Linked DNA regions of Homo sapiens: all the other regions are linked to region 2. Evidence: fine-mapped expression QTL. A gene starts in region 2. Each other region holds a variant in brackets. All regions are shown on one strand. Distances are between the middles of the regions.

What was found. PIP is the estimated chance that this variant, and not a neighbour inherited with it, causes the effect.
Region 1: its variant is fine-mapped to the expression of TIGIT in whole blood (TOPMed, PIP 0.90).
Region 3: its variant is fine-mapped to the expression of TIGIT in whole blood (TOPMed, PIP 0.98).
Region 4: its variant is fine-mapped to the expression of TIGIT in whole blood (TOPMed, PIP 0.92).

Annotation. Positions count from the first base shown.
Region 1 is chr3:114,327,119-114,329,807 of GRCh38, forward strand. It overlaps ZBTB20 (zinc finger and BTB domain containing 20), which reads right to left. Exons shown (of 12, transcript NM_001348800.3): 12 at 1-2,689. Among named protein-coding and RNA genes, the nearest start is that of MIR568, 12 kb to the left of the region's middle. The variant C/A (reference allele first, on the strand shown) is at 1,395.
Region 2 is chr3:114,292,538-114,295,195 of GRCh38, forward strand. TIGIT (T cell immunoreceptor with Ig and ITIM domains) reads left to right here and starts at 1,491. Exons shown (of 4, transcript NM_173799.4): 1 at 1,491-1,585. The coding sequence starts at 1,525.
Region 3 is chr3:114,271,577-114,274,265 of GRCh38, forward strand. No RefSeq gene overlaps it. Among named protein-coding and RNA genes, the nearest start is that of TIGIT, 21 kb to the right of the region's middle. The variant A/G (reference allele first, on the strand shown) is at 1,466.
Region 4 is chr3:114,321,792-114,324,480 of GRCh38, forward strand. It overlaps ZBTB20 (zinc finger and BTB domain containing 20), which reads right to left. Exons shown (of 12, transcript NM_001348800.3): 12 at 1-2,689. Among named protein-coding and RNA genes, the nearest start is that of MIR568, 6.6 kb to the left of the region's middle. The variant A/G (reference allele first, on the strand shown) is at 1,122.

The sequences.
Region 1 (2,689 bases), 35 kb after region 2:
AAAGACAGGAGGCTCATAAGCAATAATAAATTCACACCCTGGAGTCTCTAGAATATCAAACAGGATTTAGACATTAATCTGAGACTAACACAGAGGTTGTGGTGAGAAATTCTGGGTCTTGGGGTTGGAATACTTCTTGGGGAACTAGAAAGAACAGCATCAAGAAGGCATCCCAGATTGAGGACCAAGTAAGATCTATCAGAACCAGAGCCTCTCCTCCTCCATATTATACTTTAAATGACAGCATTTTAGGATTTAAAAGAGTCTTTCTTCCTTTGGAAGCCAGTGCCTAAGGAGAGGATTACTTTAGATAAAGAGTACTTTAAGAAAAAAAAAATACCAGGAGTTAGAATGGACAAAGAAAAAGAAGGATATAGGATTGATTGGGAGAACATTCCAAGTGAAGATCATAGTCCTAAGCAATGTAAATATTGCCTTTAAGAGATGTTGTTTTCCTACTAGATGCATGCCTCATAAAGGCTTTCAAAACTGCTATTTATTTCATTGTTCTCTATGGTGTGAGTTGATGTTATAAACTGGTTTGATTAAGATAAAAGCTGGGTCAAATCTCAAGTCAAATAAAAATACATTTCTGATATTAAATGTTGATTCTTTTTGTCAAAGGGTAAAGCAAGAACTGAAAGCATACCGCCTATGCACTCAAAACCACATAGTACTCTAAATGTCACAGGACTTGTCTTCATTAAAGCTGAGAGGCGATGTGGTATCATGGCAAGAATATTGGACCAGAAGTCAGGAAAGACTGTGTTACGAAGTTGTTGTGAATGTGATATTATAAGCATCCTGAAAAGGATACACCCAGAATGGTATCAGTCAGTCTTTTGGGCAATGCTCTGGTGACCAGACAGTTGTAATCCACTGCAGGGAGATCTAGCATGACAACCAAATTATATGGGGCGTATTTAGGTGCTGGGGAGTGCACTGCATGGCTCTTTAGGTATCCATTTAGCTCTGTTATTATTTTATTTAAGTATATATTAAGTTTATGTTTAGGCAATCTCTGGTTGCAAAAACAGACACTTTCAAAACTTTATGGATCTTTTCATCCATTAGTAAGTTACTGCTCAAAGTTCTAAACAAATCAATGATTTTTTTTTCAAAAAGGCAATAAATAAAAAAACTCTTCCTAATTTTTCCTACAATGTGTTCAAGTGGATGTGGCTTTTCTTGTTTGAGAAGAGCTCACTAAGGCTTGAACAGTTATCAAAATTATTTTGAAATGTTACTCTTTTCTTTAGATTCCTATAATCTAAAGTCTGATAAACAAGTAATTTGACTAGTGGAAACAGTCAACATTAATGATTCTTTTTTTCTCCGTCAAAAGTGATTTACTCATATGAAGAACCTGAACACTGTGGTATTTAAAAAAAAAA[C/A]AGAAAATATTTTTCTCTTCATTTTTGGCCAAACGTGAAGGTAAGGGGAATTAATGACCTCAGCTAGTACAGTTGACATTTAAAACTGTGACTCAGGTCCTCCCACTCTCAAAAGAATATTGATAACTTTTAAACTCTGAAGCTAAAATGAAGACATGCTTCACTCTGCCTACGAGTCTCAAGTTTATGAACTCACTCACTTTAGTGTTCTTTCATTAAATAAAACTTAAAGAAGGATGTTCAGAATGGGGTGGAGAAAGGAAGAGAAATGAACAGTTAGGGGTCACAATTATTAGAGTTTTGGGGGCAGTAATGAAGACAAATAGGTAATTTGAAGTAGTCTTCAAGAGAAACAAGAAATAAAGGGAAAGGGTTAGGAAAAGGAAAGAGGGAAATAATGAAGTTGATATAATTTGGATATTATGTGATCATTAGAGAAGAAACAGCCTCACTAACAGTCAATTCACAATTATGTTTGTCTAGTAGAAATATATCTGCTGGAACACTTTGGAGAACAGATTGGTAATTTTGCCATTACACTAGACATTAGCCCTTTCAAAGCAGACTAAGAGTACGTAGTTCCTTAGTGAATACAAGGCTTCACAACTGAAGAGCATTGCAGGGAGCTTGGCTAAGGTGAAAAGGGACTTGCTGGAGAGGTACAGCAGAATGGGATGGGATTAGAAAACAACAATCTATTAGGAAAGATGAAAGGAAGGAATTCCCCAGTGTTCACGCTGAGAAGTCTTCATATTGGACCAGTGTGAGGGGGTCTTTTATACTGAGGTTTTAAAAACCTGACTTCATTTTGTCCTGAATGTAGAAGTGAAGAAGGACACTAGTTTCAGGCACCTGGGATGGTGGAAAAGTTTATTCAACTGAGGCTTTCCATGCATTGGGTTGAATAGCTGAGGGAAGCTGAAGACTCTTATCTGAAAATATGATCTGAAAATATTTATTGTATAGGAAGACAGAATGCCTGATTTCTGAAGTTTTCTTGATGGCCCAACTAAAGAAGAAAGGCACCAAATCCTCACTTTAACAGGTAAATGGAGATCCTGAGGGCTGGATACCCAAGAGCCACCATTTTACGGATTCCTCAGATTTAAAAATGTCTCAGATAGATATTTCCAAATTCTATTTCTATTAGCCTCTGTGGATAAAGAGTTCCTGAAACTCTGGTTTTACTTTTTTTGGAAAAAAAAAAAAAAAAAAAAAAAAAAAACAACTCCCAGGAAAATGAACACTATATTGCCAAGCTGCCTCCAGGGAAAGGTTGAAGACTAGTTAAAATA
Region 2 (2,658 bases):
GTGCTCTAGTCCCACTAGCTGCTCTTGGCCCTGCCACTCCTGGCTCCCCGGCCTTAGTGAGTTTGGGAAACATCCCTCCAGTTCAACCTTGGCACCTTCCCTTGGACACACATTAGGTATTATTTCTCCTTCAGCTGAAGGCTTTGTAGCTATTGAAAGGCAAGGCATCTCTTGATGTGAGCCTTGAAGGACAGGTTGCTTTGGGTAGGCAGAGAGAAGCTGGTAAGGCGTATATTGTCTAAGGGTCTGGAGGTGGGGTATAAGGGGTATACAAGTCATAGAGTTGGGGATAGGCAGAACCCAGAGAGGGGAGAAAACTGGCCTGAGATAGAAGACCTTGCAAGGGAGAAGGAGGGTAGGAGCCTGGATGGTGTGAAATGCTAGAGGTGCATGGCTGGAATGGAGGGGGTGGGGCACCAGGCTTCAGATGCTTCTGGGTGCAGATGCAGATTTTCAGGATGTACAACATGGAGCATCCCCAAGGCAACTGTGTTGAGAGCCTGCGAGGCAGGTGAATGTGGATCTTCTACCCCCTCTCCTGACTGAGTTCACCAAGGAACAAGCTTTGTAAACTATTTGAGGGTAGGGGCTGTGATTATTTACTCTCATATCCTCAGAGCCTGGTGTTGAGGTTGGTGCTTTGTAGGCACCCAGGGACTTTCAAATGAATGAAGGGAGGGAGGGAGGAAAGAAGGATGGGTCCATAGTAGGACCTGGTGATGGGCTGGGAGCTCCAGGCAAATGTCAACCAATCCCTCTCCTGGGTCAGCTCCCAGGGGCTCACCCTTCTTTGCATTTCCAGCTCTCATGAGGTCATTGTGCACAGGAAAGCTCTCTCCTCTAATCTCCTCTGATCCTACTGCACCAGAGAAATCAAGCCAGAATTCAATAAAGTCTCAGTCCAGATAAACAAGACAAAAGAAATAAGATTCGAGTAGAAGATCTCCTTCAAGGGAAAGTTGCTGTGTTTGTCCAAGACCTTTGTCCCATCCATGTATCATCCCCCAAGTAAACACTTCTTGTTCACCTGTTCATTAGATTTCAAGTGCAGTCCCTGGCCTGTAAGTCCCTACAATGATAAGCTTCTCTTATCATTGCACATTCTTCATCAGGAGGATGCCAGAGGAGCTCAGCCAACAGTTCCTCATCAGTAGCAGATTCTTCAGAATCTTGGGCACTACACAGATGCCCTTGAGCTCTTTGAATAAAGGCTGATTTTTAGAAAAAACATTAAGACAGAACTTAAAAACAATAGATTGACTATAATCCAAAGACGAGTGTACCTCTAACCACAATTTTCATTTATTTTTAAATGTTTCCTTCATGGCCTTTCTTGTGGCTCACCCTATGCAGTTTGTGTATTTGTTGACAACTTTATGTGTTTTTAATATGGTTTTTGCCAAACTTGGTTTTTCCGAGACCGTCTTTTCTCAGAGGCTCAGTTTTACCGTCCTATCTGCAGTCGGCTACTTTCAGTGGCAGAAGAGGCCACATCTGCTTCCTGTAGGCCCTCTGGGCAGAAGCATGCGCTGGTGTCTCCTCCTGATCTGGGCCCAGGGGCTGAGGCAGGCTCCCCTCGCCTCAGGTAAGGCCTGAAACCCAGCAGAGCAGCAGGGAGGAAAAACAAGGCTAAGCTTGGTTGGAGACTTGGGTGCTTGTGTAGGGAAGACTCCAAGAGCATGCCACAGCTGCTTGAGAGAAAGAAATTGCAACTTTTAGAGTCCTGTGTACTCTTATTTAAGAAAGGACAATCTCTGAGAATGAGGTGGGGTTCTGTTTTTGGTGGCAGATGAAGGACTTTGCAGACTTCCGGGGTTGGAGGAGCCTGACTGGCCAGCACAAGAAGGAGCAGGAGAAGAAGAAGGGCTGGGCAGGAGGCATTGCCAGTTTGCTTTTAGAAGCTCATTCCTGCTCCAGCTTCTTTTCTGTTGCCTTTCAGGAACTTTCCAGGAAAACATTATAAGTTCTCTGTGAATTGAAAATGTCTTTTTCACAGATTCCAGAGGTTCTACCACTAGAGACTGATTTTTTGTTAAATTTATTTCTTCTATATTAAAAATCAGAGTCAAATATTTCTGAGGGAGGGGAACACAAATATTTAAAAACTGTGGTATAAATTAGTTTTTATGTTGCCTTCTGAACTATCTGAGGATGGAGATGTGCCCAGGGTTGCTGGGGAGAGGTTAAGTGCTGAGAGGGTGGTTATGCCTGGGAGAAGCAGGGTTTCCTGCTAAGCTTCCTTTGCTATTGGATTTCTTGGCTTTCCTGAAGGTTTTTTCAGGCACTGCAAATGACAATCAACCAAACAGCAAGGTTTTATTTCAAAGGATAATGCATCCAGCATAGAACTAGGCCGCAGGAAGAAACATAAAAACAAAACAAAATAAAAACAGAAGAGGTGGTATCAGCTGACAAGGGCTTATATTCTAAGTGGGTAGACAAAATAGGCCTACGAAAATAACAAGCTGGCCATGAAGCTACATAGCAGAATATGCGAGGGGGCAACGTGCTAAGTTGTGTAGTCATAAGCCAGGCATTTAGTAAGGTGCTAATTATACAATACAGGCAGTGAATGTGAAAGGAAAAGGGAGGTTGAGATGGGCTGAGGTCTTCTAGGAGGCGGGGAGGGAGTGCAGCCTTGACAAGCCTCCCTGTGGG
Region 3 (2,689 bases), 21 kb before region 2:
AGGGACCCATTGGGAGATAATTAGGATCATGGGAGTAGTTCCCCCATACAGTCCTCATGGTAGTGAATAAGTCTCACATGATCTGACAGTTTTATCAGGGGTTTCCACTTTTGCATCTTCTTCATTTTTTACTCTTGCTGCCGCCATGTAAGAAGTGCCTTTTGCCTCCCACCATGATGCTGAGGCCTCCCCAGCCATGTGGAACTGTAAGTCCAATTAAACCTCTTTTTCTTCCCAGTGTTGGTTATATCTTTATCAGCAGTGTGAAAACAGACTAATATAACTGGCCTCACCCAGCTCCCATGCAGCCAGCAAGGTCAGTCTGACTCCTGCCAGCTCTCCCAACAGCCAACAGAGCTGAATTTATATCCAGGCTTCTGGTGCATAGGGTTGAGGTCCTACCTCAGTCTACAAGCCTCCCCACTGAGAAAGCAAGCAGGGCTTTCAGGTCTTGCCCTTCCCTGCCTGCTGCAGCTTCTGTGCTTGTATCTGTACTTCTTGTTCACCCTCTTGCTCCAACTTTTTTGCCCAGGAAAATTCATGCTCGGTCAAAATTATTACAAAGTTCCTTTGGAAGCCTTCTTTTCCCTGTGATCCTTCCCCAATTCCACTGGCTGCCCTCCCCAAGGACCCCTATGAGATAAAATCAGAAATGGCTTCCCTGAGGACTGGGAGTGCCTACAGGGCTCTTCCTGCTGCTACTTCTACTTTTATATTTCGCTTGGCTCTCTAAATTTGTTTAAGCTCTAGGTAAGGTTAAATCCTTCTCCTATGATCTGGATTTTCAGGTTCCCCAGTGAGGATGTGTGTTCAGAGGCAGGATTTCCCCCTTCACACTTTTGGAACTGACAGATTTTTGGCTGTCTCATGGAGTTTGCAGTGGAAAGCCACTTCTTTCAAAGGGTCTATGAATTCTTTTGGTTTTCCTGGTATGTTCCTGCAGTGGTTCTTGGAGCTAAAGTTCACAGTGTGTTTTCACATGCTGTTCTGTCCATCTGAGTGGGAGCTGCAAGTTAGTCCTGCCTCCTATCTGCCATTTTTTTTCTGAGAGCTTTCACTTTTACTGCTCTAACCTATTATTTTAAACTGATGATAACACTTTGTTTATGTTTATTTATGACATTGCATAAACAAACAAGCAAGAAAAAACTAATAAAACCTCTACACTTTAACTTCATCCTATCACTTTTTAATTTTTTATTGTTTCTATTTATATCTTATTGTACTATGTCTTAAAAAGTTGTAGTTATTATTTTTGATTGACTTTTCATTTTACTACTCAAGATATGAGTAATTTATGTACCACAATTACAGTGTAATAATATTATGTATTTTTCTGTGTATTTACTATTAGCAGTGAGTTTTGTATCTTCAGATGATTTCTTATTCCTCATTAACATCCTTTTCTTTCAGATTGAAGAACTCTCTTTAGCATTTCTTGTAGAACAGGTCTAGTGTTAACACA[A/G]TTTTTTAGCTTTTGCTTGGGATGGGCAGATTACGAGGTCAGGAGATCGAGACCATCCTGGGTAACACGGTGAAACCCCATCTCAACTAAAAAATACAAAAAATTAGCCAGGCATGGTGGCAGGCACCTGTAGTCCCAGCTACTCAGGAGGTGAGGCAGGAGAATGGTGTGAACCTGGGAGGTGGAGTTCGCAGTGAGCCAAGATCGTGCCACTGCACTCGAGCCTGGATGACAGAGCAAGACTCCATCTCAAAAAAAACCCAAACCAAACCAAACCAAAACAAAACGAAACAAAAATCAGATCTCGTGAGACCTATTCACTATCATGAGAACAGCACAAGAAAGACAATGCCCATGATTCAATTACCTCTTACTGGTTTCCTCTTACAACACGTGGGAATTCAAGATGAGATTTGGGTGGGGACACAGCCAAACCATATCATTTGAGTTAAATCTGCTTGGTGTTCTAGGACCTTTTTGTACTTTAATATTGATATCTTTCTCTAGGTTTGGGAAGTTCTCTGTTATTATCCCTTTGAATAAACTTTCTATCCCTATCTCTCTCTCTACCTACTCTTTAAGGCCAATAACTCTTAGATTTGCCCTTCTGAGGCTATTCTCTAGATCTTGTAGGCATGCTTCATCCTTTTTTATTCTTTTTTCTTTCATCTCCTCTGTGTATTTTCAAGTAGCCTGTCTTCAAGCTCACTAATTCTTTCTTCTGCTTGATTCATTCTGTTCATAAGAGACTGATGCATTCTTCAGTATGTCAATTGCATTTTTCAACTTAGGAATTGCTGTTTGATTCTTTTTAATTATTTCAATCTCTTTGTTAAATTTATCTGATAGGATTCTGCATTCTTTCCCTGTGTTATCTTGAATTCCATTGAGTTTCCTCAAAACAGCTATTTTAAGTTCTCTGTGACATATCTCTGCCTCTCCATAATTGGTCACTGGTGTCTTATTTAGTTCATTTGGTGAGGTCATTTTCCTGGATGGTCTTGATGCTTGTGGATGTTCAGTAGTGCCTGGGCATTGAAAGTCAGATATTTATTGTAGTCTTTGCAGTCTAGGTTTGTTTGCATCTTTCTTTCTTGGGAAGGCTTTCCAGGTATTCAAAGGGACTTGGGTATTGTGATCCACATTTTGGTCACTGCAGCTGTATCTGCATTAGGAGGCACCCCAAGCCCAGTAATGCTGTGGCTCTTGCAGACTCAGAGGTAC
Region 4 (2,689 bases), 29 kb after region 2:
TGCAAATATCATCAAATCACAGCATTCCAGAGCAATATCCTGTCCCTTCATCCTAAGTGGATACTGTCCCTTCAAACCTCCTCAGAAGACTGGAGGCAATGGTACAGAAAAGCGTAACTGAATAAATTATTAATCTAGTACTCACTACGACAAGAAAGGCACTATCACAACAGATCAGCCTCCAAGCATTTTCCTTGCCATGGGCATGGGCGTTTCAACCACTCCAGAAATCACAACAAAATCCAGACTGTGGCTTTTTCAACACTTGAATTCATTGGCCAGTTGTCTGACTCTCCCACCGGTCACTGCTGTTGGCTCTGGCCATACAGAACCCTGATCTGCACTGTGTACATGCTGCCCTATGTTTCACCAGTGACCTTTGTTTGGTTCTAAATGATTTAGCTCACTCTCTTCCATGGAAGTTTCTTTCTCTCCATCAGTCTCCAGGTCATGACTCTATTAAAGATCATTTACAGTGTCAAGTAGTGTTGTTTATTTTTTTCTATTTTTTAAACCTCTGATCAAATCCAAAGTCATAAAGATAGTTCAGTACGTCCTCTGATGACAAGGTCTCCTGTAAATACCATTGTGAACAGAAGGAAAACCATAGTGTAATCCCTTGACCACCAAAGCATATCCCTTGAGCCTGTTGTAGTACTTTTTTCTGGGAGAGAGGAAATTGCGATCTGAAGATTAAAATCTTTGGTGACAGAACTGGAGTGGATATGCAAATTTCAAGGAAGAAGTTTTCCAAAGCCTCAAGAGAAGTATCCTAGGACAGTTAATGTGAATATATTTTAAAAAGTCAATCATTTCTTTCTATAGCTTTGGTTTGGTGCAGTCAATGTCCTCTTAGTGATTACCCAATACTTATTTCTAAGTACCTGTTAAAAGCTCTGGATTTAGTTTCTTACTTAAAACAGAGATAATGCTTTGAGTGCTTAAGGAATTTCTTATGCTAGTTTGGATGGCTCTAAATGGAGTTTTTCTGACTAACAAGGCTGACAACTTTCTGAACAATATTTAAACTTGGAATAGTAGACTTGGACGGATAGTAAAGAAGAGAGAGAAAAAGACAGGTTATCAATGTTGTAATCTTAGGGAAGGGGCCTCAATTGAGA[A/G]TTTTCCAAATTGATGCCCCATATGTGACAGTGTTCAGAGAAATTCAACATTAGCCATTTATATGGGTTGTGATCCTTTCCTACTGTGCCAGAACCTTCAAAACTGTCACTTTGAGTTCCAGAAGAGTCCTTCAGCATCTTTACTCTTGTGTTATTATTTCCCACACAATCTATTGCTTATCCTGTGATGAAAGATTCTTTTATTAACAGTTACTAAAGAGCTGTCAAACTCTGATTACTTCTAAGATTAAAAAAGATAATAAAAATAAATTTAACAAAGAAAAGTTAGGAAAAAACCAATTTCAAAACTAAACTTTTAGGCACTATTAAGGTCTTCTGCTTAGTAAGGATAGTCTATGATGGAGCAGCTAGTATGTTCTAATCCATCCTCCAATGTCCAAGTTGGCCTAGCTTGTTTCAAAATAAACCTTTCACTTCACTGGTTTTCAGTGTTTATTGCACTGTTCCCTATCTGTCATCTTAAAGGACTTTACCACATGCATAGCCTTCCTCTTTGGTTAGCCTGATCTAGGTTTCACCCAGGGATGGAGAAGCATAATCAGGCTGAAAAGTAATTCCAATATGGACAAGGCTATGTGTTTTTGAAAGGAGCACATCCTACTGCCCTCTGCCACACTAAAATGTGCACAAGCAAGGGGCTTTGTGGAGGAGGCCAAGGCAAAGACTTCTACATCATATCAATTGGCTTCTTCACTGTTAAAACTCTTACTGAGAGCTCAGTCAGAAACAAGATTGGGTAAACTTTTTCTTAAATGTTCTTAATTGCTGTACTAACTCAGCTTCTTTACAGTAAGAAAACAGATCCTATCAGCATGGTGGTTCCTAGGCCTGATCAAGAGTTGACAGAGATTCCACAGATTCTCGCCAACCCTGCTAAGATCAAGCATGATGAAAATAACTCTGCATTTTAGTGATGCTCCTACTTCCATAATTTGCCTTTTTCTTTCCCATACGTAACACACTCTCTCCCAGCACAAGTAAGTACATTTCAGTAGTGCAATGCAGTGCAGTCATATTTAGTGCAAAAAAAAGCCCTATTATAACCCAAAGCTCAACTCTAAACAGCTCTTACAAAGGTTACCAGTGCTACGAAGGTGGGAAATTCAGTCTATCTCACACTTATGTGAGTCATCTCTTTTGTTGCTCCTGTTTGTTTCAGCTCAAAGTAGAGAAACTAGCATGCACCTATGTATTTTCTGTAAAACATTAAGCCAATAGGCAGAAAATAAAAGGAAGTAGTCTAGTTAAAATCAAGGGTATTATTTAGAAGAGGAAAACAGCTATTTAATGTAAAGGTCAGTAGTGGTTTTTACTTAATAGTTTTCATCATGTCAGATGGCTCTAATGCTAAGGGGAATGGGTTCAGAAAAAGATAAAGCTTTCCTGTTTCTTGAAACACGGTCCTAAATTTAACAGTGCTGGGCTTTTATTTTTGAATAGTGCAATCAGCTATTCCTCAAGGGCTACAGGCAGCAGCCACCTAACATAACATAAATAGGTACACTAGGAGCACTCACTTTTCTACATTGATCACTTTTTCCCTCACC